Regions from separate parts of the Homo sapiens genome. Here region 1 is linked to region 2. The links come from fine-mapping of genetic effects on gene expression. A gene starts in region 2. The other region holds a variant in brackets. All regions are shown on one strand. Distances are between the middles of the regions.

Evidence for each region.
Region 1: its variant is fine-mapped to the expression of CETN3 in thyroid (GTEx, PIP 0.95).

What each region holds. Positions count from the first base shown.
Region 1 is chr5:89,708,599-89,711,517 of GRCh38, reverse strand. All of the region lies in intron 1 of LINC02161 (long intergenic non-protein coding RNA 2161), which reads right to left. Among named protein-coding and RNA genes, the nearest start is that of LINC02161, 130 kb to the right of the region's middle. The variant T/C (reference allele first, on the strand shown) is at 1,701.
Region 2 is chr5:90,408,360-90,411,278 of GRCh38, reverse strand. It overlaps CETN3 (centrin 3), which reads left to right and starts at 1,523. Exons shown (of 5, transcript NM_004365.4): 1 at 1,523-1,634. The coding sequence starts at 1,618. LOC731157 (a long non-coding RNA gene) reads right to left here and starts at 1,279. Exons shown (of 2, transcript NR_105024.1): 1 at 975-1,279; 2 at 610-779. RefSeq lists an enhancer at 1,554-1,753.

The sequences.
Region 1 (2,919 bases), 700 kb after region 2:
AATGTACGATATACAGAAAGGAGCAAAGGTGATTGGTAGTACCGTAGGAGACCAGTGGGGAGAGATTTTGAAAGTTTAGACTTTGAGGAGTGTTATTGATTCAATGGTTTATACAACAACAGTGACTGAGGCAATTTAAATTATATCTCCTTGCAAAATAGTTGCTTCTCCACTCTTCACTTTACCCCTTATTCTTCCAACTCTTATTCTTCCTTTGTTACTTTTTTTTTTTTTCTGAGATGGGGTTTCGCTCTTGTTGCCCAGGCTGGAGTGCAATGGAGCAATCTCGTCTCACAGCAACCTCTTGCCTCCCAGGTTCAAGCCATTCTCCTGTCTCAGCCTCCAGAGTAGCTGGGATTAGAAGCATGTGCCACCACCCCCCGGCTAATTTTGTATTTTTAGTAGAGACGGGGTTTCTCCATGTTGGTCAAGTGGGTCTCGAACTCCGGACCTCAGGTGATCCACCCGCCTCGGCCTCCCAAAGTGCTGGGATTACAGGCCCTAAGCCACCGCGCCCAGCCCCTCCTTTGTTACTGTTTTTTTTTTTTTTTTTTTTTTTTTTTGGAGCTGTTTTAGACTGGAGAATATCAGTGGGAAAGGAAAGGTTTATAAAAGACCTGTGAGAATAAAAGCAGAGTGTTGGCAGGGGAAAAGGTGGTGGTGGAAAAAATGCACCAAGACCTTCTAACATAGTATTAGTAAATAGCCTTGACATTTTCAACTTGAGAGGAATGAAGTCACTTAAGCAGATGGGGGGAAATAAAAGTTAGATGAAACTATAAAGTATTCCAGTTACAAAACTGAAAGAAACTATTAGTGGCACTTCTCCTCTCATTTAAACAGCATGAATAAGACTCATTCAAAAATAAATTCTTATCCTGCAAGCTGTTTGTGGAGTCAAGGAACCTATCTCATGCAGGTGTTCCATGTGTGAAATGCCAAAACAGATAATAGAAGCTCCAAACACACCATATTGGAGTTATAGGGAACCCTAAGCCCAAAGACACCATAAGAAAAATAAGAGGTTTTCTAAACAAAAGTATGTTTGTGCTTTAGTGCTGCTTAAAATGATTCCATTTGTTTTAATCAGTTATATTTTTTGTGCCATAAATTTCATATGTATACTAATTATACCAGTAAAATTTGGGTTTAACATTGCAAAGAGAGAACTTGTGGGCTCTGTGAGAAGATATAGCTTTTCCTAAAGGATACAAACTCAACTTCAGGTCATTACAAGTAAAATTTACTGTAGAAATTATTTGCAGAATAGCTTGAGGGCTTCATTTGGCATGCGCATGCATGCAGAGCTCCTGTAGAAGTTATGGAAACTTATAGCTCTATAAATGCCAGCTGTTGAAGGCAGGCTGCTCATAATCTGAGCTGAGGAGGAAAGAAAATGTAGATACAAAGGAGGAAAATAAATGTTTAGGAGCAAAGAGAAACAGCAGGCTACACACTTGGTGCACACAAGACTATGGGAAAAACAGGCTGGATATTTCTTGGGAGATAAGGGGGAAAAAGGAAGAACAGTGATTAAAAATGTCACTGCTGCCAAAGTAGGCTTGGAGGCCCAGGGAACTTCATTTGTATATTTGTCAGATCAATCTCAGTCATTGGTGGTTTTGCAACCATTGTTGTGTATATTATAAATACAATATACACATTTGTTAATACATATATATACATGTAAATAATATATG[T/C]ATACAATATGTACATGTCTATGCACACAATAAATATATACCTATACACACAAGTAAATATATATGCATATATAAAATGGAACATAAATAGGATAGAAAAGACATGTAAAAACTGCCTTTGAGAAACTTGTAGTTTAATTGAGCATATAAGACATGATACACAGCGAATAATTGCACTATCATACATGTATTTCCCATTTGTTATTCAAACCACTTCAACTTTGGTCCTTCCCTACATGCCATTGAAACAGCTCTCCCTGAATTTGCAGCCAAAAATAATATACTTTTTAAAGTTCTCTTTAAAACCTTTAGCATTGCAACATTCAACTGATCTGCAACATTTAACCTTGACCCCTCTTCACATTTTGAAACTTTTCTTTTCTTAGCATTCAATTCACATTCTCTCTCGATTTCCTTTATCTCTCTGGACACATTCAGTCTCCTTCACGACCTTTTCATCCTTTGCTGGTCTGTTAAAAGGTGGTGTTCCCCCAGAAGTCTATTTCTGTAACTCTTCATCATCTGGGTGATTTCACCTGTATCCATGGTTTCACCATCACATAGATGTTGATGATTGAAATTCAGCCTAGAACTTGGTGTTTATATATAACCACCTACAAAATACCCCCTTGGCTATCTTATGCCACTTCAGGAGCATCACGTTCAAAATTGAATTTCTCATTTTTCAGAGCCTTCAATAAACATGCTCCTCTTCTTCCCTCTCTCAGTTGGTGACACCTCCATTCTCTTGAATCATACCCGACTCTATCTACTACCTTGTCATCCCCTACAACGAATCCCCAGGAAATTCTGTCAATTATAATTCCCAAATTACTTTTCCATCAAACATCTTTTCTTCATCAGGCTTCTTATTTTATAGTTTGCTTTTTCCAACAGCCTTATAAGTGATGTTCCTCTTTTCAAAATTCTCCAAATAATTTCTAGACTCATGTGTGTTAAATATGTCTGATTTTGATCCTCCTTTTGAAAATGCTTCAATTTCTTCTAATCATCTTGAGATAAAGCCCTAAATTTTTGAGTGTGGCATGATAAACCATTTTGTAACCTGTCCTCTGCCCACCTATGCAGCCCCATAACTCCACACTTCCTTTTGCCCCTTTAACAGGATAACTCTGGTTGTCTTCAGATTTTGGCTCATGTGCTACTTTTTGCAGGCAATTCTCTTTGAGGTTCTTCCAATATGTCCTCATACAGCACT
Region 2 (2,919 bases):
ATTTTACCAATTTCCTTTTAAAACACTGTTCTCAAACTTTATCTTTACTAATTTCCTCTTCCTAATTTCAATTATACAATTTGTTCTTCGTTTCTAACATCTTCAAATAAATGCTTGGCCTATTTTTATTCTTTCTTATTTAAAATAATGTTCTCCTATAACTTGGTCTGTATCTTAAAATTTTAACATATAGTTTTTTTCAATATCATTATGTTCTAGTAACTACAATTTCTCTTTCCTTTTAGACTCAAAGGTGATTTATAAAGGTACTTTAAAATTTAAAATACGAACAAAATAAAAGTTCCACTTTTGTTTTTTAGGGGTGCTATCCCTTAGCTAATTTTTAGCTTATTCTATCATACTATCTTTCCTTGTGCAAATTTAGCCCATCCTTCTAGGTCTAACGTTTATGTCACCTCCTTTAAGAAGCATATCTTGTGTTCTCTCCCTTCTCTAAAATTTTATATACATCCCTTAAACATATAATGTTTATATATTCTCCGCCTTCAACTCCCATCCTCAGGCTATTTTATTCACGTTTATGAGATTTGCTGTTTAGCTCAGTATTTTGTGGATTTTCAAAAGATTCCACTCAATTTACCGAGCACCTACGCACCAGACATTTTATTAGGTACAAGGAAAAGCGTTAAATAGATATAATCACGGCCTCCAAGAAATTGAACCTAGTAAGAGACACGAATAAGCAGACATTCAAGTGAGCTTTAGGAGACTTGGTTTGGTAGTGAAGACAGTCTCATGTGTGTTAACAGCTTACAGCACTGAAAAATAAGAGACAGAAGGGAACAAATCCGTTTCAAACAGTTCAAAGGAGGAAAGAGAGGGAAAGGTGGTTTAGATACAGCTAAATCATAAATAGCCTGATAATCTAACCCTGTGATAATCCAAGTACAGCCACAGCACCTGCCTCAGAATCACTTGGAAGGCTTGTGAGGAGTAAAAACGCAGATTCATACCTACTGAAATTAGAATGGAGAAACGGACATTTAAGTCTGCATTTTAAACACATTCCCCAGGTACTGAGGCCATTCCAAGTTTTAGAACAGAGCACAGCCAATTTTCGCAGACCTTGTTCCTCAAGTACTCCCTCCTTCTAGCCGGAGGGTGGCCTGCAGCATGTCCCTTCCCTTCCCACCGCCGAAGCTGTCCATCCAGTTTCTGAATGGCGGCCCACAGACCGCACGGCTTTACGAGAGAGGAACACAGCGCCCACCCGCCAAACAGCCACACAGGGATCGGAGGCCGGACCCGCAAAGGATTCGGGGAAAAACGCATCGAGCCAATCCGAAGGGCGAGAGCGGCCCTAGATTGGGGGGGCGGGGGGGCGTTAGGAGGTGGGCGGGGCACAGAAAAAAAATTTTTTTTTCCTTGATTGACGTAAAACCTACCCAATGAAAATAGAACTGGTAAAGCTTCCGCCCCCTAATAGGCAGAACCATAGCGACATTTCAACCAATCCAGCTCAAAAGTGTCTATGTTGTGGGAGGTCCCTGAGGCCGCTGAGGTCGTTCGTGTCTGTTGAACGGCTGTGGGCGTCTTGCTGCCTTGGGTAGGGGGTTAAAATCGTTCTTGAGAGGAACGTCTCTGTGCGAAGAGATAATGAGTTTAGCTCTGAGGTCGGTAATAAGGAGGCGGCAGTGCTCTCCACACCCCGGAGCGGGGCCCAGGGAGGGTGTGTGTGGAAGGGAGGACGTTTGGGGCCGAGGCGAGGCAGGGGATGTAGTTTGGGACGCGGGAAAGGAGCCTAGGGCAGCCTGCCCGGATCACTCACCCTCTGGGCTCTGATGCCCTGCAGGGAACGAGACCAGTGCATTTCTGCTAAGGAGGTTATTTCTGTCAGCGCGTAGGGCTTTGGACTGCCAGAAGGTTGGGCTTAGTTGCGAGCGAGGTGGGAATGAAATATCGCGAGGCTTCTACTCTTGTTTCTCAGATCAGGTCGCGGACATCCCTTCATTCATCCGTGTGCCTGGTCAGGGCCCCACCTCGGCTGCTCCGCTGCTAATGCAATCACCCACCTATAAATTTTGGAAATAACAAAAACTCTTTCCTCTTCTCCCAGGGCCCTGCTTTACGGTGTAATTGGAGACCCATTTTAGTGACTTTAATTGGCAGTCTGTCTCTTGGATTTCCTAAATTTCTTGCATTTTTTTACCTTTCAGTTCTAACCTCTAACCCTCTGTTGCCCTCTCCCACTATGTAGACGTTGTACCGTAAAACTATCCATACACTTACGACACTCCGAAAATATTCCATGTTCTGCTAAGGGATAATCATGGTACCCTTGGATGGGGTCAGGGGTGGGTCGGTTCTGGACTTGGCCTCCAAAAGTCTCAGGAAGGAAAAGACTGACCCCAGGAATACCCAAGTTTGTGTCAAGTCAGGTCTCATGAAAGGAAGATCTTCCTCAGCTTTGTTATACTGCACCTACTAGTCACTTCCTAGCTTTTTTTTTTTTTTTTTGGAGCTTTCAGAGACCAAAACGACTTTCAAATGCAACTAGATAGGTGTTTTAAGTACAGTCAACTGGTTTGACATGTTAATGTGTTACCGGATTGTGTTTCAAAACTCGTTATTCCAGTGTTGCGGCTCCATTTGAAAATTTGGAGCACATTTAGATGGGCAGCTCTTAAGGAAAACATTTCTGGCTTTAAAATAATTTTTGCTTTTTTTCTTTAAGCGTTTCCAGAGTTTATGAGAAGTTAACCTCCGGTTTACATGTTAAATGAGACAAGACTCATCACATTTTTATATAGAATGAAGCACAAACATTGTATATTGGCATCTAATATTTGTCATATGTTTAGACTCATTAATATTTTCGATGGTTTGTTAATATCAATGGAGGAAATGACACATAAATTGCCAAACTGTTAAAAACGTGTAATCTAAAAACATTTTGAA